Homo sapiens: one gene and its partners. The protein of the gene in region 5 purifies or fractionates together with the protein of the main gene of each other region. This does not show direct contact. Each region holds a gene or a part of one and is shown on either strand. Other genes may lie near its edges.

Region 1 (3,500 bases), on a different chromosome or scaffold from region 5:
GAGAAACCGAGGCCTTAAAGAAGGAACATGTCTGATGGCTTGCCCTGCCATAGAACAGTTGAGTGTTTTATTAGTAGGAGCCTTCTATAAAGACTGGTTTATGTCTTAACTGGTACCTGTGCATTGTTTATGTATCTTTTCTCTTTCAATCAGAGTCCAAGTTTGTCTCAAAACTTTTTTTACAGTTTGTTTGAATTAAACCCAAAGAAGTTCTGTACATCACAATTGGTTCATGTTTCTTAGGTTTGTTTAAATCTATCAAGAGACTATAGATTTAGACACTCCTCCCTTTCCCCCTCTTCTAGTTGCTGAGGAAACTCTAGTCATTTGTCCTATGGTTATGCACAGTTTAGATTTTGCTGACTGCATAACTGTGTGATATTTAACATGTTCCTTTGTCCCGTCTATTTCCTGTGAATGAGTAGTTGGTTGATCAGATTCAAATTAGGGATGAGGGAGCAAAATACTTCAGTAGGTGAATAGAACATTCGTGAATATCTGGTGTCTATTATAGATGTTAACAGCCATTAATTACCATTGCCTAGATCCATTATTTCATTAGCGTAGCAAAATTATAATATTTTATTAGCTCAACTCTAAAAAGCTTTCCCTCATCATCAGTTTGGATATCCCAAGGTATAGTTTGTATAGGAAAGGCAGGATACATACTTGATTCTTCTTTCCCTTTATTTACCAATTTTCAAAATAATAAATTGGTCCCCCAAATCCTCCAAAGGCAACAAATAAAGGATTTGAATTTTTAAGGCTCATTATGAGATCATAGGTTCAAACACACTCGATAATGTTTCGGTCCGTTGTGATGATGGTGTTAGTGATTTGCTCAGATTGTCCCATCTTTAGTCAGTGGGCATCTCCTGAAATTGGCTCTAGTGACTTTTTGGCAGGGCCCTAATTACCTTTGATAGTTTCCTTACTTTCTAGTATGACAAGATGTTCCGAGCTCATCTTGTGCATTTCTTGCCTCAGGCCTAAAATCAGGCTTTTACTCTAGGAATCCTAATTCCTTTTGGTAAAAAAGTTTCTAGTTTTAATCAAATGTGTCTTCCTCAAATTCTCTTCACATTCCACGTCCCTTATTTCAAAATACCTTATGTGTTATATAGGTTGTTATGAGCAAGTGAAACAAATTTGAATTTTATTGTCTTTAAATTCACCCAAGAATCTAAACCTGTATACATGTAACAGGTCTCTTTTCCCTGGGTAAGGAATGTTGGTTATGCATTTAGAACACATTTCTTTGGCTGTAGGGGTTGATTTTACCTGTTGAGGAATGCTAGTGAAAGGAAGAATTGGGAAAAAAAAAAGAATTGGGGAGAGTTGAATAAAAGGATTGAGAGAATATAAGGGTAAATAAATTTGTACCTGATGGCAGCTGTTTCTGACAAAATTCCAAGCAGTAACAGAGAAATGTCTCAAAAGAGGAAACAAGGAAACAATGTGTTTACCTTTAACAAGGTTAAGTTCAGATCCACTTGTTGCTATAAACCTTTTGTGAGTAATCCAGCCTCACGCATACACCCCAAAATTTCTTTCCTATCCTAAGGTTGACAGAGTCTGGCCTCTCGATGGTAGATTGGCATTTAATAAAGGAGATGAAGCCACCTACAAGCCAAGAGGAATGGGAAGCAGAATTCCAAAGATACCAGCAATTTCCAGAATTTAAAATGTAAGTATTAGAGAAAATTAGGTAAACATCCCAGTAGGCCCATTTGATCTTTTGGACTTAAACCCTTCAGAATGGTTAGATTATTTCATGAACTTCGGTTCAGTTATGTTTAGTCAGCTTGTCTTCTAAGCCCCCAAATCCAAAGTCATCCTGAGGTCGTTGATGAGGAAGAGGGCAGACCTACCAAGTTGCAGGACTGAGAAAGAAAGGTTTTGCATTCCGTAAGAAAATAAAAATCAGAAGGATGTTTCCTCCTCCTCCTTTTTTGACTTTCCATTTCACCCAGCTTGAATCATGATATGACACTGACAGAATTCAAGTTCATCTGGTACATGGAGTACTCACACCGAATGTGGGGTCGCCTTGTAGGCCTTGTGTACATCCTGCCTGCTGCCTACTTTTGGAGAAAGGGCTGGCTCAGCCGTGGCATGAAAGGACGTGTTCTTGCCCTCTGTGGCCTCGTCTGCTTCCAGGTAAGATTTATTCAAGGTTGAGAAACCAGAAATGCTCCCAGGAGCTTCCTAGTTGGCATTGTTTTTTTTTTTTTTTTTTTGAGACGGAGTCTCGCTGTGTCGCCCAGGCTGGAGTGCAGTGGCGCGTGATCTCGGCTCACTGCAAGCTCCGCCTCCCAGGTTCATACCATTCTCCTGCCTCAGCCTCTCGGTAGCTGGGACTGCAGGCACCTGCCACTATGCCTGGCTAATTTTTTGTATTTTTAGTAGAGACGGGGTTTCACCATGTTAGCCAGGATGGTCTCGATCTCCTGACCTCGTGATCTGCCTGCCTTGGCCTCCCAAAGTGCTGGGATTACAGGTGTGAGCCACTGCGCCCGGCCCCTAGTTGGCATTCTTTTTAAGGAAATAATCTCTGAGGCACTTTAATAGAATAGGTAAGAGCATGCATTTTAGTGTCACAGGCCTAGCTTCAAGCCCCAGCTCTGACACTTAGGGTAAATTACCTAACCTCTGAAAGCTATGATTTCTTTACCTGTAAATGGGGATAATAACAGTGCCACCATGTACAGTCGTGTAAATATTAAATGAGATAATCCATATTTAAAGTACTTAGCTTAGTGCCTGGAATCAGTAAAGCACTCAGTAGTATATTTTCATGTGCTGCAAGATGTAGTTTGTTTCCCATCATGGGTGTCTCCCTAGGTTCTTGTCTCTCCTCTTTTTCTAACTTGTCTGCTATAGGAAAGAGGGATCCCTGTGCTAGAATGCCACAGAAGCATACAGGAAAATTCCAAAAGAGAGAAACACTTTGTGGGATGAAGGATTGTAGAATACCCATGTAGCTGAGAGATATTCAGATATAAATGGCAATTAAAATCACGTAAGTTGAGCGCCTCTTAAGGAAAGACTCCCACAGTTAACAGGTTAGTACTGCTAGAATGATGAAAAAAAAAAAGTTGGGTGAAACTGAGCAACAAATTAAAAGAGAAGACACATAGGAGTATTTGGGTCAAGGTTTAGAGATCCTAAAGGAGATTATCAGGGCATCAAAGAAACATCAAAATTTAATCAGGAGGAAGCTAATTGGTTAATTTAACTCAGAAGTGGTAAGAAAATGAGTCAGTTAGAAGGGATTAAGGCCGGGTGCAGTGGCTCACACCTGTAATCCCAACACTTTCGGAAGCCAAGGTGGGGGATCAGGAGTTCCAGACCAGCCTGGCCAACATGGTAAAACCCTGTCTCTACCTAAAATACCAAAATTAGCTGGGCATGCTGGCGTGGGCCTGTAGTCCCAGCTATTTCGGAGGCTGAGGCAGAAGAATTGATTGAACCGGGGAGGCGGAGGTTGCAGCGAGCTG
Region 2 (3,500 bases), on a different chromosome or scaffold from region 5:
TTATTGTATTAAACAATATAGTGTAACAATGATTTACTCCTCATTTAAATTGTAATTTGTCTTATAAGTAATCTAGAAATGATTTAAAATATTTGGGAAGATATGTGTAGGTTATATGCAAATGCTATGCCACTTTATATCAGGGAATTGAGTATCCTTGGGTTTTGGTATCTGTGGGAGGTTCTGGAACCAATTTCTCACAAATATGGAGGGAGGAGTGCATAACAAATTTACTATTGTAACCATTTTAAAGTGTACCATTCAGTAGTGTTAAGTACATTCACAGTGTTGTGCAGCTAATCCCCAGAACTCTTTTCATCTTGGAAAGCTGAAACTCTGTACCTGTTAAACAACACCCCATTCCCTCCTTGGTAAATGCTTTCTAAGTGTGCTATTTATTTAGAATCATATTGGCCGCTTGAACTCTGTAAGCCACCACTAACTCTAAGTTGGTTAATTCTCTGCTAATAACTACAGCATCAATGTGGAGGTTTGGGGCTCCATCCTCAGAGCCAGTCTGCTTAGCTTCACATTTAGCTCCAGCACTTCACGGTTGTGTAACTTTGGGCAAGTTATTAAACTTTCATGTGCCTCAGTTTCCTCATCTCCAAAAATGAGGATAATAATTCCCATTCAGGCCAGGTGTGGTGGCTCACACCTGTAATCTCAGCACTTTGGGAAGCCAAGGTGGGAGAATCACTTGAGCCCAGAGTTCGAGAACAACTGGGCAATGTGGCAAGACCCCGTCCCTATGGATACATTTTCCTCTTAAAAATTAAATCCTAACTAATCTAAAGCTGTCTAGTTAACAAATGCCCAAACAAAATTTAAAAATTAGATGGGCATGATGGTCCGTCCTGTGATCCCAGCTATTTGGGAGGCTGAGGCAGGAAGATTGCTCGAGCCCAGGCAGTCAAGGCTGCGGTGAGCCATATTTATGCCACTACACTGCAGCCTGGGCAACAGAGAGACCTCATTTCTAAAAATAAATAAATAAATAAATAAATAAATAAATAAATAAATAAATAAAAATTTCCTCTTTAGGATTATAATAGTGTGGATAAATATTAATAAATGGTAGCAGTTGGAGGGGCAAGCAGTTCTGTTTTGATTTAAAAGAATATTGAAGAAAGCATTTACAGTTCACATAAATTTATATTTAATCAACTTTTTAAAACTTTATGCATTTGTTAACTATCAGCTTTAGATTAGTTAGGATTTTATTTTTTAAGGGGAAAATGTATCTTTTGTTTTCTTTTTATTTGGGTCTTCATTCTACAGTGGACTAAAGTGAGTAAAAATCAGTCTTTTTACTGCTTGTAAATACTAAAGGAAAAACAAGTAGTGATAATGAGATTTGGGATCATCTGTCTATTAAGTATCCCCATTTACTATAGGAATTAACTTATCTTAAACCAATGTAACTTATCTAAAACCAAAGCATGGTGTGGTGTGGTTTCCCTTCCTAGGAACAACAGAGAAGTTAAATACAGTATTTTAAAATCTTGCTGGAATTAGATTCTAATTATGTTTTCTATTTTTATTTTTTGTTACTCAAAAGACTTAATTACTATCCCATTAAAAAATAAGAAGTGCATGTTCCTGTATTCTTAGAAGGGGGTGATGTAATAGATGGTGCTGAGAAGAAAATCTTCACTTTGAAGAGATACATGACTCATAAATTGTTTATGAACAGTTCTTTTAAAAGGTGTCTGGTTCTAATTCTGTGTTCTCCACCAGCTACTTAGAATGTGTTGATTATAACACTCTGCTTTTAAAGGATGAATTAGATGAATCTTAACAGCCTAAAGGAATAGATTGATCCCGAAAATGAACACTTCAATGGGAGTCCTTTTGGTTATTTTTTTTTTTGACAGCCTAGGAATATGTCTCTATCTTCATGAAGTTCTAATCATATGTTTTTAGAATTTGCTATAAGTAACTTCCTGTGTGTATGTGTAGTCCCAGCTGCTCAGGAGGCTGAAGTAGGAGGATTGCTTGAGCCCAGGAATTTGAGGCCAGTCTGGACAACATAGTGAAACCTTGTCCCTTTAAAAAAAAAAAATAACGTCCTAAAAATTGATGTGGAGTGTAAAGATGAACCCAGAAACCATATGCATTATTTTTCTAAATAAAAAATAACGGATGAGGAATGAATCAATCTCAAAGTTATAGACTAAACACTATACCATAAATAAAATAATCATAAAAAGTAATTGGATATGTGAATAAAATAAAGTTTTCTATAAGAAAGTCTGTTATAACTGACGAAAGTCAGCTTAATATCTGAACTTCACCTTTTTTTTTTTTTTTTTTTTGAGAGGGAGTGTCGCTCTGTCACCCAGGCTGGAGTGCAGTGGTGCAATCTCGGCTCACTGCAGTCTTAGCCTCCCAGATTCAAGCAATTCTCCTGCCTCAGCCTCCTGAGTAGCTGGGACTATAGGCACGTGCCACCATACCTGGCTGATTTTTGTTTTTGTTTTTGTTTTTTTTAGTAGAGACTGAGTTTCACCACGTTGGTCAGGCTGGTCTCAAACTCCTGACCTCAAGTGATCCACCTGCCTTGGCCTCCCAAAGTGCTGAGATTACATGCGTGAACCACCATGCCCAGTCTGAATTTTATCTTATATTTAATAAGTTTTCATATAGGGAATAAAGATAACCCTTTCAGGCTGTGAAATGCCTGAAGAAGCATTTCTTTATAATATAAAGAACAGTTATGGTCAACACAGGATAATTAAAGTTTGGGGATCTATCTGGCAAAAGTTCAAGTGTTCTTTGTTTTTGTTTTTGTTTTTGTTTTGAGACGGAGTCTTGCTCTGTCACCCACGCTGGAGTGCAGTGGGGCAATCTTGGCTCACTGCAACCTCTTCCTCCCAGGTTCAAGCAATCGTCCTGCCTCAGCCTCCCAAGTAGCTGGGACTACAGGCGTGTGCCACTATGCCCAGCTAATTTTTTAGTAGAGATGGGGTTTCACCATGTTGGCCAGGCTGGTCACGAACTCCTGACCTCAGGTGATCTGCCCACCTCGGCCTCCCAAAGTGCTGGGATTACAGGCGTGACTGCTGAATGTGCATGTATAAGCAGTATTTATTTATGTAAGATATAACCTTGCATGTGGCTAATCAGAATTTTTAATGCCTAGTCATTTGTTCTAGTATCACACATTATATATTTCCTCATGTAGAATCATTAGTCTACCAAAAGATGGCAGTTTTGTTCCTCACAAGTTTCTGTTGTAATCTAAAAATAAATGATTATGGTAGCTTTTTTATTACTGTACCTAACACTTTTTACCCTCTACTAGAATACAAAGTTTTTATATACAAGAAAAAAAAAGAGTGTTGAAGTTTTATGAAACTGACCATCTTTTTTGTTATTTTTTTAGGAATTTGCCATTTGTAAAAAACAGTCTTTCTGTTTTTGGCTTCTTCGATTTAATGTGAGCTATTCTTATTTTGTGTTCTTCAAATGGCCGTGAAATGTGAACCAGAAAAAGC
Region 3 (3,500 bases), on a different chromosome or scaffold from region 5:
TGTAGTAATGTCTATTCTAGTCATGCACACTGGTGTTAACTTAATTTTTGTTGTTTTTTGTTTTTCAGTTCTAATCTCATTTTAGCAAAAACTTACCTTTTTAAATATCCTGTTGCATTGTAACATATACTTAGGTCCACAAATCTGAGCTCAGTGAGGATTATCCCATAGGCTTCTTTGTTTTTCGTGTCAGTCAATGCCAAATCAAAGCCCTTTGGGCTGGTGGTTTCTGTAGAACCACCCTGATTCAGTCTGAGGGCAAATAATCTCCTACACTTCAGGCTCACAGATTCATCTTTGGCTCATGCTAAGACATGTCCCGAGGTCATGTAGTTGAATGGCAGCTAAACTTATCTGAGTTGTTTAAAGTATTTTCTCCCCAGTGGCTTAGAGTTGAATTTGGATAAATCTGCTCTCTGTACAGTGTAACCACATTTGGCAGGTGCTCAATAAATGTTTGTGGAGTGAATGAGAGAGATGAAAGGAGACATCAGGATGGGTATGTCTGGTGAATGTGGCTTTCTCCTTCCTTGGAGAGCTGACCATTGACAGGTGTGCCAGTTTGTTACAGCTGTGTGACAAACAACCCAAACAACAGGCATCTTATTGTTTCTTGTGATTCTGCCTGGTTGGGCTCAACTGGATGGTTCTTCTGCTGGTATCGCTTGGGGCCTCTTGATGGCAGGTAGGGCTGGAATGTTTAATATGTCTGCATTTATGTGTGCAGCCCTTCGGCAGGGACACTGAGTTGTCTGGATCTCTCTCTCTCTCTCTGTGTGTGTGTGTGTGTGTGTGTGTGTGTGTGTGTGTGTGTCAGTCTTCCACGCTATGGCCTCTGAAGCTCAAAGCTCCTAGAATCACAGGTCTGGAAGTTGCCAGAGCTGTAACTTGCCCCACATCACTTCCACTGCAGGCCCAGATCCCAGGGGAGGGAACCTTGCAGGGGTCCAGACACTGTTGCTGTGGCCATGGGTTCCTCTTGCCTGAGCTGATGCTGAGGTTTCTCCCATGTCTCCCAGATGCTCAGTGACCTCCAGGAGTCTGTGGCCAGCTCTCGCCCCCAGGAGGTGTCAGCATACCTCACCCGCTTCTGCGACCAGTGCAAACAGGACAAGGCCTGCCGCTTCCTCGCGGCCCAGAAGGGGGCCTACCCCATCATCTTCACTGCCTGGAAGCTGGCCACTGCAGGTGACCAGGGCCTTCTGCTCCAGTCCCTCAATGCCCTGTCGGTGCTGACTGATGGACAGCCAGACCTCCTGGATGCCCAGGGCCTGCAGCTCCTAGTGGCCACGCTGACCCAGAATGCTGATGAGGCTGACCTGACCTGCTCTGGGATCCGCTGTGTGCGTCACGCTTGCCTGAAACATGAACAGAATCGGCAAGACCTGGTGAAAGCTGGCGTGCTGCCTCTGCTGACTGGTGCCATCACCCATCATGGCCACCACACTGACGTGGTCAGGGAAGCCTGCTGGGCCCTGCGTGTCATGACCTTCGATGACGACATCCGTGTGCCCTTTGGCCATGCCCACAACCATGCCAAGATGATTGTGCAGGAGAACAAAGGCTTGAAGGTGCTCATCGAAGCCACCAAAGGTAAGAGCTGGGGGCCGACACGAGCCAGCGAACAAAGTGGGCGGGTCAGATGTGACCAGAGTGAGGGTCAGGGCTCAGGACTGCTTTAGGCACGGCAGGCTCAAGGCTCCACTCGCCCCTCGGCTTAGACCTGCCTGCATGGCAGCCCTCGTGAAGAGTCTCCCCATGTTTTCTAGTGGCTCCAGGAGAATTCCAGGCCAGCACTCAGGGGCCAGGAGCAGGCCACAATCCCATCTCTGGAGCTGTCTGGGGAAGGGGCTTGCTGTGTCCAACTCCAGGGGCTGAGAGTGGGGAAGGGGGACCTCCCCAGAGGGAAATAAGAGGACTCGGGGGGGCTGGCTGGCATGCACCATGGCAGTCTCAGCTGGATGTGTACACGCTTGATCATATTCAGCCACAAATCCTTAGGCATATTCATGTGTCTGGCTCCAGGGTGACCATGGTGAGCCAGCCCTGGGAGGTCACAGTGCTGACCGTCAGACCCTAAAGCTTCTGTCTTAACCCCTACCCCCATCCCATCCACTGAACCCACCAGAAAAGTCCTGATTGACACACAGAAGGTGTTAGGAGGATGAGTTCCCCTTTCTTGCCTGCCCCGTCACTCTGGTTCTGTGGCCAGGCCTGTGTGGGGGTTCTGGCTCTGTCTGCTGAGGAGATGGGCCCACCTCAGTCTCCCTTCCACACCTCCAGCAAGGCTGAAAATGAGTCCCGACCTTCTGCAAAGTCAGGCTGCTTTTCCAGGAGGTAGCTCACATCTTTCCTGTTTTATTTATAGGAGCTCCAATCAGTTAGGTTTCTGCCAGAGACAGGATATGTATATATGAAGAGACTTTTTGGTAAGGAATGGGATCATGCAATTATGGCAAGTCTGTACTCCATAGGGCAGGCTGGAAACCCCCAGGCAGTCCCCTTTTCGGGGAAACACCTCAGTTTCCTTCTAAGGACTTCAGCTGATGGAATGAGTCCCATTCACATTGTTCAAGGTCATCTCCTCTACTTAAAGGCAACTGGGCTGGGCATGGTGGCTCATGCCTGTAATGTCAGCACTTTGGGAGGCTGAGGTAGAAGGATTGTTTGGGCCCAGGAGTTCAAGACCAGCCTGGGCAACATGATGAAACCCTGTTTCTACTAAAAATACAAAAATTGCTGGGCGTGGTGGTGGGCACCTGTAATCCCAGTTACTTGAGAGGCTGAGGCACAAGGATCTCTTGAGCCTAGGAAGGAGAAATTGTGGTGAGCCAAGATCACGCCACTGCACTCCAGCCTTGGTGACAAAGCGAGACTCTGTCTCAAAAAAATTAATAATAATAATAATAATAATAGATAGCTGATTGTGGATGGTAACCATGTGGACAGAATACCTCCACGGCAACACCTAGATTGGCATTGGGTGGAACTGCAGAGGGCTACAGGTGGTCACAGGAACTGACCGTCGCAGCCCTGTGTAGGTGCAGGATCTTCGCCCTCTTGGCGTGAGTGCCGGCACCTGCTTCCTGGTGCAGCGCCTCTGGGCTCCATCTGCGGCTCCTGTGTTCAGTTTTGGCCACGTCAGCCCAGTCCGTATGTGTCCCTCTATGGTTCTGGAGTTTCCTGTTGCACTTAGAGAAGCCATTCCTACCCCATGATCATAAAAATAGTCTTCAGATGTCTTTTTTTTTTTTTGCACTATTATAGTTTTCTTTTTTTAGGTGAGACCATGAGTTGGTATGGAATTTATTTGGGGCATGATGGAAGGAAGCGGGTTGGGGGGCACATTCTTAAGTCTTCCCAGCAGCCAGCAGGGGGCACTGCAGGCCCAGGTAGCCCCTGGTGTTCCCTGGGGCCTTCCTGGTGCCCGTGGCCACTCCAATAGGCAGAAGGGCTGGACTCTTCCAGTGGAGCAGGATCTCCACCAAAACAGAGGGCCC
Region 4 (3,500 bases), on a different chromosome or scaffold from region 5:
TTGGCACTGAACCTCCAAACAGTCACTCTGGTTTTCCTAATTAACAATAAGTAAGCCGGGCGTGGTGGCTCAAGCCTGTAATCCCAGCACTTTGGGAGGCCGAGGTGGGCAGATTACCTGAGGTCGGGAGTTCGAGACCAGCCTGACCAACATGGAGAAACCCTGTCTCTACTGAAAATACAAAATTAGCCGGGCATTGTGGCGGGTGCCTGTAATCCCAGCTACTCAGGAGGCTGAGGCAGGAGAATTGCTTAAACCCGGGAGGCGGAGGTTGCAGTGAGCTGAGATCGCGCCTTGCACTCCAGCCTGGGCAACAAGAGCGAAACTCCGTCTCAAAAAAAAAACAAAACAAAAAACAGTAAGTAAATCTTTACTCTTGGACCCACCTGTATTGTATCAAAAGTGTGCCTGTGTTTCTGTATAGTCAGGGGTTGAACTGGATTTTTAGTTAGGTGGGTACACATTTGTGCAGGGAGGATTCTCCAAGGTCATTTGTTTCACAGGCTTGTTCTGAGGGCTGAATGTGGAGTGCGTATCCTGCTGTCAGTTGCTCAGTAGATGGGCTCTGCAATTATACACTGAGTCCCTTTCCCTGTCTTGGCATTAGAACTGTGCTTCAGTACTGCCGATAGTCTGCCCTGCTTGTTAATGTATTCAGAGGAGGATTTGAGTCACTTATCGATATGGACAGGTCTCCACTAAGCCAAACCCCAACGCAGCCAAGGCTGCGAGACAGCTCCCTCAGATAGCGGCCGCCGCCTCCTCGGCCTCCTGCTCCTCCAGTGTATCAAAGCATGCTGGATATGACCAGGAGGCCAAGCGAAACCTGTCTGTGTTTGGCCTCTCTGACGGGCTATCTGTCCCCAGCCCTGTATGAGAGCTGGACTCGCTGTGGTGGTTTGGGATTGTCATTTGTTCTCATGCCTGTGGTACACTGTGGCTTTGGGTCTACCACAACTGTCTTTCATGGATGTGGGTTCCTCCCACAGGTTGGGATTGCCCTGAAGCCCTTCCTGCCCCAGCTGCAGACCACTTTCACCAAAGCCCTGCAGGACTCCAACCGGGGGGTGCGCCTGAAGGCCGCAGATGCTCTGGGGAAGCTCATTTCCATCCACATTAAGGTGGACCCCCTCTTCACAGAGCTGCTCAATGGCATCCGCGCCATGGAGGACCCAGGTGTCAGGTACGGCGCTGGCAAGGGAGCACTGTGGCCTCCAGGAGGCCAGGGGTTGCTGTGGGCCGAGCCTGCGCTGGCAGGAGGGGTGGTGGTGGAGGCACCCAGGGCTTAAGGCGGTGCATTGCTTCTGCAGGGACACCATGCTGCAGGCCCTGAGGTTTGTGATTCAGGGAGCAGGGGCCAAAGTGGATGCCGTCATCCGGAAAAACATCGTCTCACTCCTGCTGAGCATGCTGGGACACGATGAGGTACGGCTGCAGGCAGGACTAGTGGCAGCACTGGACCACTGGTTTCCCTCCTCCTCCTTAGGTTGAGTTCTTCACTTTGTGTTAGAACCAGTACAGCTCAGTAGTAATAAGCATTCCTGACATTTCTATCACCCTGTATGCTTCACCAACATTTCCTCGGGTTTCAAGGGAAACGGGGCAGGTATTGTGGATATATTGGTTATTTCCGTTTGTTTGTTTGTTTTTTGGCTGAGTCTTGCTGTGTCACCCAGGCCGGAGTGAAGTGGCACAATCTCGGCTCACTGCAGCCTCCGCCTCCTATCAAGCGATTCTCCTGCCTCGGTCTCCCGAGTAGCTGGGATTACAGGTGTCCGCCACCATACCCAGCTAATACTTGTACTTTTAGTAGAGATAGGGTTTCACCATGTTGGTCAGTCTGGTCTCAAACTCCTGACCTCAGGTGATCCACCCGCCTCGGGCTCCGAAAGTGCTGGGATTAACAGGCATGAGCCACCGCGCCCGGCCGGTTATTTCTATTTTATAGATGAGGCAAGTAAGCTTTGTAGAGACCCAGACCTCTCACCTATTTGCTCTCTGATCTTAAAGAAGTCACTTTCTCTGTCTGCCTCTCATTTCCACTTTTGTAAAATGAAGAGGTTTATTTATTGTTTTGTGAAACATTTGCCGAGCTAAAGGGCCTATCCCAGAGGTGCATAGACCTCGTGGTCACAGACCTCAAGAAACTTAGTGTGTAGTGGGATAAATGGTCTCCAGGGTGTGTCCCGGTGGCAAGTCTTAGAGGTCTATTTTCGAGGGTGAGACTTGTCTGGGCCATACCCAGCAAGTAGTAGAGTCCAAACCAGAAGCCCTGGACTCCTGGTTCTGTCCCAGTTCCATCAGCCTCACCTAGTCTGGAAGCATCTGTCAAATATTTGGCTGCGAGCACTGTGGGGCCAGTAGGGAGTTGAGTCTATGGAGAAGAGTTTTCTGTTCCCTTTTCAGACAGCCCTCTGTTGTGGTCTAATTTACTTTGTAGGGCCAATCTAGGAGGAGAGGGCCTTTGGGCTCACATGGTTTTACACGTCATTGACACACACACACACCCACACACACTCCTCCTGCCCACACCTGCAACACACACACTTGCTGCTGCACTTCCCATGGCTCCAAAGGCCTAGTTCTGGTCCCCAGGCGCCAGCTGTCGGACTCCAGCCCCAGCCTTCTCTGTGGGGACAGACAGGAAAGTCTGCTGTCTTGGTCACAGTCTTTCAGGGCTTCTACAGAGTCATGTGTACAGTGCAAGCAAAAGTTAGTATTGAAACATATTTGCATTTTACCACAGTGCAGCTTAAAATAGATGAAGTTGGAGAGAGTCGGTGTCAGAGCCAGCTTTAGCTTGGCACCTGGGCTTCTGCTTCGAGCTCAGAGGCCCAAACTGCTGGCAGTCCATTCTCTTACCCTCTGAACCTCCACTCAGATTGAAGGTGGCAGTTCAGGGTGCCAGCCTGGCATTAGCTTTTTGGGTTATTGAGTCCCTGGTTGGTGGTTTGTTTTGGGGACATGTTGAGTTGGCACCTGTAATAAGGAACATAACTTAAAATCCTCTCTTGGTATTCCATAGTTAGCTGGCCAGGGAGGAGCACGGAGCCGCTCGCGTACCTGGCTCTGATTTGAACAGGAAGTGCTTGCCTTTCCTTATCTTCCTTGGCTTGATTAGTGGCTTTAGTTTGACTTCCTAGGATGAACCCAAGTAATTTCGGTGGCAGTGGGGCACTCATGCAGTAGGGAGATAGCAGGAGTCATTCTGGCCACAAGATGACACAAACTCTGTGGGAGAAAGGAGCTCAGAGTGGCCGTCTCTAGCCGGCTTCCCTGGTGGCTGGGGGCAGGTGCCTCCCCTCCTGCCCCTCCCGCCCCTCCCTGCCTCACAGGGCTGTTGATAGTAATTGAGATAATAAATATGAAACATTCAGCCTTCCTAAGAAGAAAGATGCTATGTAAATACAGTTATTACTGCTATTACAAGGATGATTACCATATGCATACACACTGGGGTTTTCTATAATTAAGTGAAGTGCTGGCTGTGTAATGTTTAA
Region 5 (3,500 bases):
TTTGAGACGGAGTCTCATGGTGTCACTCAGGCTGGAGTGCAGTGACTGGTGTGATCTCAGCTCACTGCAGCCTCGGCCTCCCGGGCTCTAGTGATTCTCCTGCCTCAGCCTCCCGAGTAGCTGGGACTACAGGCCCATGCCACCATGCCTGGCTAATTTTTTATATTTTTAGTAGAGACGGGGTTTCACTGTATTGGCCAGGCTGGTCTCAAACTCCTGACCTCAAGTGATCCACCTGCCTTGGCCTCCCATAATGCTAGGAATACAGGCGTGAGCCACCGCGCCCGGCCTGATTAGTTCTGTGTATTTTCATGCATATTACAAAACACTTTGGCCGGGCATGGTGGCTCACATCTGTAATCCCAGCACTTTGGGAGGCCGAGGCGGGCGCACCACGAGGTCAGGAGTTTGAGACCAGCCTGGCCAATATGGTGAAACCCCGTCTCTACTAAAAATACAAAAATTAGCCAGGCTTGGTGGCGCTTGCCTGTAGTCCCAGCTACTTGGGAGGCTGAGGAGAAGAATCGCTTGAACCCAGGAGGCAGAGGTTGCAGTGAGCCGTGATTGTGCCACTGCACTCCAGGCTGGGCAACAGAGCGAGACTCCGTCTAAAAAAAAAAAAAACACACACTTTGAACTAGCCAGACACACCTGGCCCTTCACAAGATTAGTGCTTAGGACAAGTCTAAGTAGAAAAAGTGAGTCCATTTAAAGAAAAATATTAAGTAAAAATATATATATACAGGAGGAATATGGATATGGCAAATAACATGAAGCCAGAACCTAAGTGACTAAAATCGAGGAAGTTCTGGCCTAGCACAGAGTGAACGTATAATTAATGGGAGCTAGAGCGACCATTAGAATAATAATGGCCAGAAAACAGAACTGACTCGCTAGGTATGAGCCAGCAGTCCGAACAAGGGCCTGCTGAGCACAGTGGCTCACAGCTGTAATCCCAGTGCTTTAGGAGGCTGAGGCTGGAGGACCACTAGAGGCTAGAAATTTGAGACCAGCCTGGGCAACATAGCGAGACTCCATTTATACAAAAAATGGAAAATATGAGGCGGGCTTGGTGGCACGTGCCTGTAGTCCCCGCTACTTGGGAGGCTGAGGCGGGAGGATTGCTTGAGCCTGGGAGGTCGCGGCTGCAGTGAGCTATGATTGCACCACTGCATTCCAGCCTGGATGCTGGAGAAAGACCCTGTCTCTGAAAAAAATCAAAACAAAATGAAGGCCCATGAATAGGAATAAGGAGATAAATTCAGGTCCAAAGAAAGAAGCCTTTGTCCACAATTGGAGCTCTCCCGCACAGCGTAGGAGCCTTAGAGGCAGTGAGCTACCCATCTTTGAAAGTGTTCAAAGGTAGAGGTGTTCCCTGGGAAAAGTGGCCTAGATGGTCCCTGGGGACCTTCCCAGCCAGTAGGGTTTTCTGACCCTGCCTTCATCCTACTCCTAGCTATTTCTTGTTGCTCACATCTCCTGAGGCCCAGGACCCTGGAGGGGAAGAAGAAGCAGAGAGCGCAGCCCGGCAGCCCCTCATAAGAACCGAGGCCCCGGAGTCGAAGCCAGGTAGGAGACACAGACCCTCAGAGAGGTCACTTTCTTTCTCTCTGGGTTTGGCCTTTTCCTCTCTGCAATAGGCAAAGTTAAGAGGGGAAAGAGAGTGAGTGTACTGGTTATGGGAAAAGCCTTTGTCTATTTGAGAAATACTTGTTGAGGACGAGCACAGTGGCTCACGCCTGTAATATCCCAGCACTTTGGGAGGCTGAGGCAGGAGGACCACTTGAGCTCAGAAGTCTGAGTCCAGCCTGGGCAACAGAGCAAGACCTTGTCGCAAAAAAAAAAAAAAAAAAAAAAAAAAGAAAAGAAAGGAAGGAAGGGAGGGAGAGAAGAAGGGATATTAATTGAGTACTTACCATGTGCCAGGCATTCCAATCACAAGTGCTGAGGCCCTGCGGTGGGGATAAGCTGGGATGTTCTAGAACCAGAGAATGGCCAGTGAGACTGGGCAGGGTGGGCCAATGGCCATCTGTGGAGCTGTACAAGAGACATTGGCCGGGCGTGGTGGTTCATACCTGTAATCCCAGCACTTTGGGAGGCTGAGGCAGATGGATCATTTGAGATCAAGAGTTTGAGACCAGTCTGGCCAACATGGTAAAACCCCGTCTCTACTAAAAATAAAAAAATTAGCCAGGTGTGGTGGTGCATGCCTGTAGTCCCAGCTACTTGGGAAGCTGAGGCACGAGAATCACTTGAACCCAGGAGGCAGAGGCTGCAGTGAGCTGAGATTGCACCACTGCACTGCAGCCTGGGCAACTGAGTGAGACTCTGTCTCAAAAAATAAAAAAAATTAAAAATCAAAGAGACGTGAAGAGGTCTCACCTGGTTAGCTTTTATTTTCATCATGATAAAGTATGTATATTACTTGAAGTTTACCATTTTATTATTTTTTATCTTACTTTATTTTTTTGAGGTGGAGTTTCGCTCTTGTTGCCCAGGCTGGAGTGCAATGGCGCAATCTCAGCTCACTACAACCTCTGCCTCCTGGGTTCAAGTGATTCTCCTGCCTCAGCCACCCGAGTAGCTGGGACTACAGACACCTGCCACCACACATGGCTAATTTTTGTATTTTTAGTAGAGATGGGGTTTCTCCATGTTGGCCAGGGTGGTCTTGAACTCCTGACCTCAGGTGATCCGCCCACCTCAGTCTCCCAAGGTGCTGGGATTACAAGCATGAGCCACTGCGCCCAGCCATTTTAACCATTTTTAAGTGTCCAATCCAGTGGCATGGAAGTGAGTTCCCACTGTTGCGTGGTCTGGTTAATTCTGTCATACCGGTGCCTCTTTGCCGAGTCTTCAGTGTGAAAACTTCATCTGCCCTTCTCTCTCTGTTCCCCTGCAGGCTCCAGCTCCAGCCTCTCCCTTCGGGAAAGGTGGACAGTGTTCAAGGTTCGGATGATGGCTGGGGTATGTCCCTGTGGGGCTTGCTCACCTCCAGGCCCCCCGCTTATATCTTCTGCCTTTTCCAGGGTCTGCTGTGGTACATTGTTCCCTTGGTCGTAGTTTACTTTGCCGAGTATTTCATTAACCAGGGACTTGTAAGTGAGGGGTGCTAGGAGGGGTGTGGAGGTGGCGATTGGGGCTGGGACCCACACAGCCCCGTCCATCTCCCCTGTCTGGTATTTGTTGCAGTTTGAACTCCTCTTTTTCTGGAACACTTCCCTGAGTCACGCTCAGCAATACCGCTGGTAAGAGGAGCGAGGGCAGTGGGCTGGGAGGGCGCCGTGGTGATGCAGCTGCCCTGCCCAGTAGGCACCGGGGGGAGCGGGATGGTCCCTGGAGGAGCCTCCTCTCCTCCCCCCAACCCTAACCTCAGGTACCAGATGCTGTACCAGGCTGGCGTCTTTGCCTCCCGCTCTTCTCTCCGCTGCTGTCGCATCCGTTTCACCTGGGCCCTGGCCCTGCTGCAGGTACCAAACCCCTGCCCCTCACTTCACTCC
Region 6 (3,500 bases), on a different chromosome or scaffold from region 5:
AAAACCCCACAAGTTACAGACATAGTCTCATAAATCATGGTTTTGTATTTATCTATATTTGGAATTGATATTATAAGAGTTTTAAGTCACAATCTGAATCTCTGGGTTCCTCATCCTATCAATTAGGAAGTATTTGCTGAATGCAAAATTATTGTCAAAAGAGAAACTTGTAAACAAATTACAGACATACACAGAGTAACTGCTTTTTAATTTTTATTTTATTTATTTTTTTGAGACAGAATCTCGCTCTGTTGCCCAGGCTGGAGTACAGTGGTGCAATCTCCACTCACCGCAACCTCCACCTGCGAGGTTCAAGTGATTCTCCTGCCTCACCCTCCTGAGTAGCTGGGATTACAGGCACGCACCAGCACACTTGGCTGATTTTTTTGTATTTTCAGTAGAGACAGGGTTTTGCCATGTTGGCCAGGCTGGTCTCCTGACCTCAGGTGATCCACCCACCTGGGCCTCCCAAAGTGCGGGGATTACAGGTGTGAGCCACTGCACCTGGCCAGAGTAAGTGGTTTTTAATAGTCAAATTACCAACTATTTGAATAGACGGAAAGGTAGTTTTATAATCTGAGATTCTCAATCCTTGTGGCACAGTACCATCAAGGAGAGCTTTAAAAAAAAAAAAAAAAGCAAATGCCCCCAACTACCATAACCAATTAAATCAGAATCTCTCCAGGTCTGGGAATAGATAATTTCTAAAGCTCCTGAGATAACTAAAAGCCATCTTGAAGGCCTATCAATTTAAGTAAAACATGACCAATATGGTTACTCGTACTAACTTTATTAAAAAACAAAACAAAACAAAAAAGCCTCATATTCCTCCATTTGAGAACAGTACTTTCAAACACTGCTGGTGGGAATGCAAAATGCTTCAACTCATATGCAGAGAAATGTAATGGTGAAATTACCTAGCAATTTTACTGGTACGCTTCCCCAAGATAAACTGGCAAAAAATATGCAGTGACACATGCAAAATGCTGCTCCATGGTTCATCCTGGCATTATTCATAGCAACATACAGCTGAAAACAACTCAAATATTCACCAAATGGAGAGTGGTTAAATAAATTACAGTACATCCATAAAATGCAACACATAAAATGCAGTTGTACAAAGCAATGAGGAAGATGGCTACGTTCCGATATGGAGTGATCTCTAGGTTTAGGTTAAAAATGGAAATGTACAAAGCAGGCTGCATTTTATGTAAAAGGGGAGCATATAAAAATCTATATATTTACTTATATTTTTAAAAAGAAACAAAATATAAATCAAAACAATAAAAATGCTTATCTGTAGATGGAAGGGAAAAGGACAGAAGCCAAAATTCTGACTCTACCTTATTTTGCCTACATAAAACTACATTATACTCTCAACACAATTAAAAAATAATAAAAGAAAAAGCAATCCTAGCATTAGAGAACAAAAAAACCTAACTATTAAGTTGGTGGCTGTATGACACAAAAAAATTCTTTCAAGTGACTTTAAGCACAGTGTTTTGACATTACATTCTAGTGGGATATGTCCTAAAGACAAGGAAAACAAAAGCCCAAATTGCATTTAACAGTCTTATTGTTAGTAGTAATACTGTATTATTTAGAAACACATATATGTTGTGATACTTACATAAGTAACAACATCATTTGAAGAACCAAGATATTCAGCATAAGATAAAAATGATACAAGTATAACATAACCCAAAATTAGCCTGTATTTATAAATTTGAAATATCACCATTAATTCATGATTTACCTAGCACTACCTACTGAAAAGACCCAGAAACAATGACAACCAGTAGGAATGAACATGTCAGCATCCAAATTGTTGCTTCCAAATAGTATTATCTATTAAAAGGATCACGGTTCCTTAGAAACATGGCTGATTCCAGGCATGACGCAGGAAGTATACATGAGCCTGGGACGTCTTACTATTCCAGAAAACAAGAAACTATCAAAGATAAATGGGGGAAGGAATTAAAAAATACAGGAACCAACTTAGTAATTCCTAATGGCTACAGATGGCACAATGTGAACATCAAAAAAGAATGATGACTGTAACTGATCATAAATTCAATACATAAAAAAAACCTCAAAATAATAGACCTAGGCAATAATCATATGACAATGGCTGTTAGAACCATTAAATGAAAGGACAATGTGGATCTTTATAACAGATGGATTAATCTTTCAAAATCTAAATCAATTACTAATTTTAGCATCGCCAGAAAGACATTCTATACCTCCTAAAACGATGTAACAGGAAGGCCGCTATATCATTTAAGTATTCTTGTGAAAGAAACTGGACATGGATCTGACCAACCCTCTGGATCTGTGCCGTCCAATATGGTAGGCCACTAGCCACATATGGTCATTGAAATTTAATTTAAATTAAAATTAAAACATAGTTTCCGCCAGGCGCAGTGGCTCACGCCTGTAATCCCAGCATTTTGGGAGGCTGAGGCGGGTGGATCACCTGAGGTCGGGAGTTCGAGACCTGCCTGACCAACACGGAGAAACCCCGTCTCTACTAAAAATACAAAATTAGCCGGGCGTGGTGGCACATGCCTGTAATCCCAGCTACTCAGGAGGCTGAGGCAGGAGAATCGCTTGAACTTGGGAGGCAGAGGTTGTGGGGAGCTGAGATCACACCAACCTTGGCAAAAAGAATGAAACTCCATCTCAAAAAACAAACAAACAAAAACAAAAACAACAACAACAACAAAGCAAAACAGAGTTTCTCAGCCTCACTAGTCACCATCGAAGTATTCAATAGCTAGTGGCTACTGTAACGGATAGCACAGGTATGAAAAATTTCTATCACAGAAAGGTCTACTGCATAGCCTCACTACAGATCTAACCCACTCTACAGAAAATGCAGCGTATAGAGAAGCTAATTAAATGACATAAAGAAGCAACCTAACAAATCCAGAATGTTGGGAAATTCTGTAATGACCTGGTTTCTTCACCAAATAAATGGAGGGAAGAGAAAAAGTTACAGTGGTAACAGCTACAGACTTGAGAGAGTAAAACAACCAAAAATCAAACCGGATATGTGGATCCTGTCTGGATCCTGATTTGAACAACATAATCATAAACGAAACATTTCTGAAACTAGAGAAATTTAAACATGAATTAGATACAAATAAATTATTAATTTTATTAGGTGTGATATTGGCATTGTCACTGGAATAGCACTTATCTTTCAGAGATATATGCTAAAATGCTGACTTTTTAATGTGTGAAACACTATGTCAAAGACTGCTTTAATATACTCCAGGAAAAAGCAAAATAAAAAAAATCAAAAGCAATTTATTGCCAGGTGCGGTAGCTCATGCCTGTAATCCCAGCAATCTGGGAGGCCAAGGCGGGTGGATCACCTGAGGTCAGGAGTTCGAGACCAGCTTGGCCAACATGGTGAAACCTGGTCTCTACTAAGAATTCAAAAACTAGCTGGGCATGGTGGCGGGAACCTGTAATCCCAGCTACTCAGGAGGCTG
Region 7 (2,689 bases), on a different chromosome or scaffold from region 5:
CTAAAACATTAAAATATATGAATATGACCAAGCCTTCATGGAGCTTGTGTTCTAGAAATGGATACTGCCCAGTGATTGGATTCAGTTTTCTGTACCGTTTTGCCTCCCTCCTGCCACTCTTCACACATTTCCAACATTTGAACCATCCTGAGCTATGCAGTTCCCTGAAAAACATCATGCTCTTCTGTGGCTCCTTTTCTTGGCTCCTGCTGTTCCCTTATTTGTTTACAATTAGGGAAATTCTTGCACTTCATTTAAGACTTAGCTCAAACGCTGTTTCGTCTTTGAACCCTCCACTAGGCCATGTTAACTGCCTTGATTTTAAACCATCGTGGAAATAAATATACTTTCTAGAAAAGAATTTACATTTCTTAGCTGGAAAAACATAACCCAACTTGGAATTCCTGAGTATGCATCTCTTGTCCCCACCCCTTGATCTGGGGGTTCTCTAGACTAGCTCTATGGTTTAGCTGCATGAAGAGTTAACTTGTGGCACCACCAAGTGGTTCAGTCAGGCAGTGCAACTTAATTCTCCTACAAGATCAAAGTAGTCCAATTTATACCATGTTACATACGAAGGGAGGGAAGAAGATGGCAAAAAGGATGGACGAAAGGAACAAAAAATTATAACGCAGTTGAGAGGTATAATGATTAGACCATCTCTACCTCTAGAAGCTCAAAATCTTACAATACCTTTACCAGGCTTGTGATCTATATTTGGGTTTTTTTTTTTAATCTTCACTATTTTGTGACCTTTAAACCTAATGCATAGAAATGAGAAATGGTTTGCTTATGTTCCTTCATTATGTGAGATCAGAGTATTTACATATACTCTTTCTTTCCTTACTGCTCAACTTTACTCTGGGAAATAACCTTTTCTTTACTGACCCATTGTGAGAGCCTCACTGAACTCTGCATTTCCTACTCAGTCTGAGTCGGAGATCTCACCCTAGTGTGTGCTCTCATAGACTATATCCTTGTGGCAAAATGGTCCTTAAAAGATGTGACAAAAAATTTTTTTTTCTAAGTGAGGGATAAATATATAGTGATAATCCCAATAAACAAATTCTCAGAAATCAAAAGTTACCTAATCAAAGTTGGCTCAAATATTGAAGTACTTCATACTTAGTATGAGTCTGTGGCTGCAGCAACAAGGAAAGAGGAAGATAGAGAGTGACAGCACTCCATCTGGGGTTCTTGGTTCTAATGAAGAGGCTGAGGTTTCATCTAACCTGTCAAGGAGAGTGGGTTGCATTCCTTGACTTAGACTTCGGAGTGGGAAAAATGCAAAGCACACACGTACATAAAAACCCAGAGACGGCCGGGCGCGGTGGCTCACGCCTGTAATCCCAGCACTTTGGAGGCCGAGGTGGGTGCATCACAAGGTCAGGAGATCGAGACCATCCTGGCTAACATGGTGAAACCCTGTCTCTACTAAAAATACAAAAAATTAGCCAGGCGTGGTGGCGGGCGCCTGTAGTCCCAGCTACTGGGGAGGCTGAGGCAGGAGAATGGTGTGAACCCAGGAGGCGGAACTTGTGGTGAGCAGAGATCGCGCCACTGCACTCCAGCTTGGGGACTCTCGCTGAGACTCTGTCTCAAAAAAAAAAAAAAAAAAAAAAAAAAACCAGAGACATGGGACCACTCCTTCTAGGTCTCAGCAGGACGGAAATCCATAGAATGGAACAGATCTCAATTTGATTGAAATTTTAAGATTTTGACCACCATGTGTTAGAACCATTCCTTTTCTTTAATGGAAGTGTCATTGGGCCAAGCGTGGTAGCTCACACCTGTCATCCCGACACTTGGGGAGGCTGAAGTGGGAGGATCACATGAGCCCAGAAGTTTGAGACCAGCCTGGGCAGCATGTTGAAACCTTGTCTCTACAAAAAAAATTTTAAATTAGCTGGGCATGGTGGTGCACACCTGTGGTTCCAACTACTCAGAAGGCTGAGACAGGAGGATCCCTTGAGCCCAAGAGCTCAAGGCTGCAGTGAGCTATGATCGTGCCACCGCACTCCAGCCTAAGCAACAAGCAAAACCCTGCCTCAAAAAAAAAAGAAGAAAAAGAAAAAAAGAAGTATCATTGCAGTGATACTTCACACATGTGAGATAAACAATACATTCACTCTTTGTTGAACTACCATGCCCAGGTTATTTCAAACTACAGAAGGACCTCTTGTATCATGACTCAGGACTTGTTACAATAGGGTTTCCTTATACTCTGTGTTGAATCACATCCAAAATGCAGCAAGCTTAAGCAATAAAGAACCTAACATTATTGAAGTTCCTCTAAAGGTCATGTCCAGATTTGTCACCCTACACCCATCCAGTCAGGTGTCTTTTAGTTACCCAAACAGTTTCCATATTGTTAGACTGTGTTTCTTCTAAAAAAGAAAAAAAGGGAGGTGGTTCTATCTTATCAATAAAATTGTTTATAAAACTCAGAAGTAGAATGGTGAGAAACTAGGGAAGAAAAGTAGTAACGCAAGTCTGAGAAATAAGATGTCTATTTTAGAAGGATCAAAGCTGATAGAACAAGCTTAATTAGCCATAAATTATGGAGAAAGTTGGCATTATCCCATTAGAAGAATAAAGTATCAAAGATCTCCTACTTGGTGGTTCTGTCTCAATGTTGAGTTTACTAAGTGTGAAAAGTATCCTATCCTGAATCTGTGCTCTCTGGATT

Evidence for each region.
Region 1: the proteins of CLN3 (region 5) and COX15 purify together in Homo sapiens (affinity purification with mass spectrometry; 2 studies listed by BioGRID and IntAct, with this or other methods). This does not show direct contact.
Region 2: the proteins of CLN3 (region 5) and RCN2 purify together in Homo sapiens (affinity purification with mass spectrometry, with the first as the bait; one large-scale study listed by BioGRID). This does not show direct contact.
Region 3: the proteins of CLN3 (region 5) and ARMC6 purify together in Homo sapiens (affinity purification with mass spectrometry; 2 studies listed by BioGRID and IntAct, with this or other methods). This does not show direct contact.
Region 4: the proteins of CLN3 (region 5) and GCN1 purify together in Homo sapiens (affinity purification with mass spectrometry; 2 studies listed by BioGRID and IntAct, with this or other methods). This does not show direct contact.
Region 6: the proteins of CLN3 (region 5) and TMPO purify together in Homo sapiens (affinity purification with mass spectrometry, with the first as the bait; one large-scale study listed by BioGRID). This does not show direct contact.
Region 7: the proteins of CLN3 (region 5) and HSD17B12 purify together in Homo sapiens (affinity purification with mass spectrometry; 2 studies listed by BioGRID and IntAct, with this or other methods). This does not show direct contact.

The regions. Positions count from the first base shown.
Region 1 is NC_000010.11:99,725,628-99,729,127, reverse strand, and holds part of COX15 (heme A synthase COX15), read left to right. Parts: intron 1-1,564; coding exon 1,565-1,687; intron 1,688-1,973; coding exon 1,974-2,160; intron 2,161-3,500. UniProt on the Homo sapiens protein: Catalyzes the second reaction in the biosynthesis of heme A, a prosthetic group of mitochondrial cytochrome c oxidase (CcO). Heme A is synthesized from heme B by two sequential enzymatic reactions catalyzed by heme O synthase (HOS) and heme A synthase (HAS).
Region 2 is NC_000015.10:76,938,249-76,941,748, forward strand, and holds part of RCN2 (reticulocalbin-2 isoform a precursor), read left to right. Parts: intron 1-3,388; coding exon of another isoform or gene 3,389-3,442; intron 3,443-3,500.
Region 3 is NC_000019.10:19,050,603-19,054,102, forward strand, and holds part of ARMC6 (armadillo repeat-containing protein 6), read left to right. Parts: intron 1-1,019; coding exon 1,020-1,593; intron 1,594-3,500.
Region 4 is NC_000012.12:120,132,216-120,135,715, reverse strand, and holds part of GCN1 (stalled ribosome sensor GCN1), read left to right. Parts: intron 1-989; coding exon 990-1,183; intron 1,184-1,310; coding exon 1,311-1,425; intron 1,426-3,500. UniProt on the Homo sapiens protein: Ribosome collision sensor that plays a key role in the RNF14-RNF25 translation quality control pathway, a pathway that takes place when a ribosome has stalled during translation, and which promotes ubiquitination and degradation of translation factors on stalled ribosomes.
Region 5 is NC_000016.10:28,482,075-28,485,574, reverse strand, and holds part of CLN3 (battenin), read left to right. Parts: intron 1-1,456; coding exon 1,457-1,569; intron 1,570-2,902; coding exon 2,903-2,949; intron 2,950-3,029; coding exon 3,030-3,098; intron 3,099-3,192; coding exon 3,193-3,248; intron 3,249-3,376; coding exon 3,377-3,470; intron 3,471-3,500.
Region 6 is NC_000012.12:98,539,590-98,543,089, reverse strand, and holds part of TMPO (thymopoietin), read right to left. Parts: intron 1-3,500. UniProt on the Homo sapiens protein: May help direct the assembly of the nuclear lamina and thereby help maintain the structural organization of the nuclear envelope. Possible receptor for attachment of lamin filaments to the inner nuclear membrane.
Region 7 is NC_000011.10:43,851,738-43,854,426, forward strand, and holds part of HSD17B12 (very-long-chain 3-oxoacyl-CoA reductase), read left to right. Parts: intron 1-2,689. UniProt on the Homo sapiens protein: Catalyzes the second of the four reactions of the long-chain fatty acids elongation cycle. This endoplasmic reticulum-bound enzymatic process, allows the addition of two carbons to the chain of long- and very long-chain fatty acids/VLCFAs per cycle.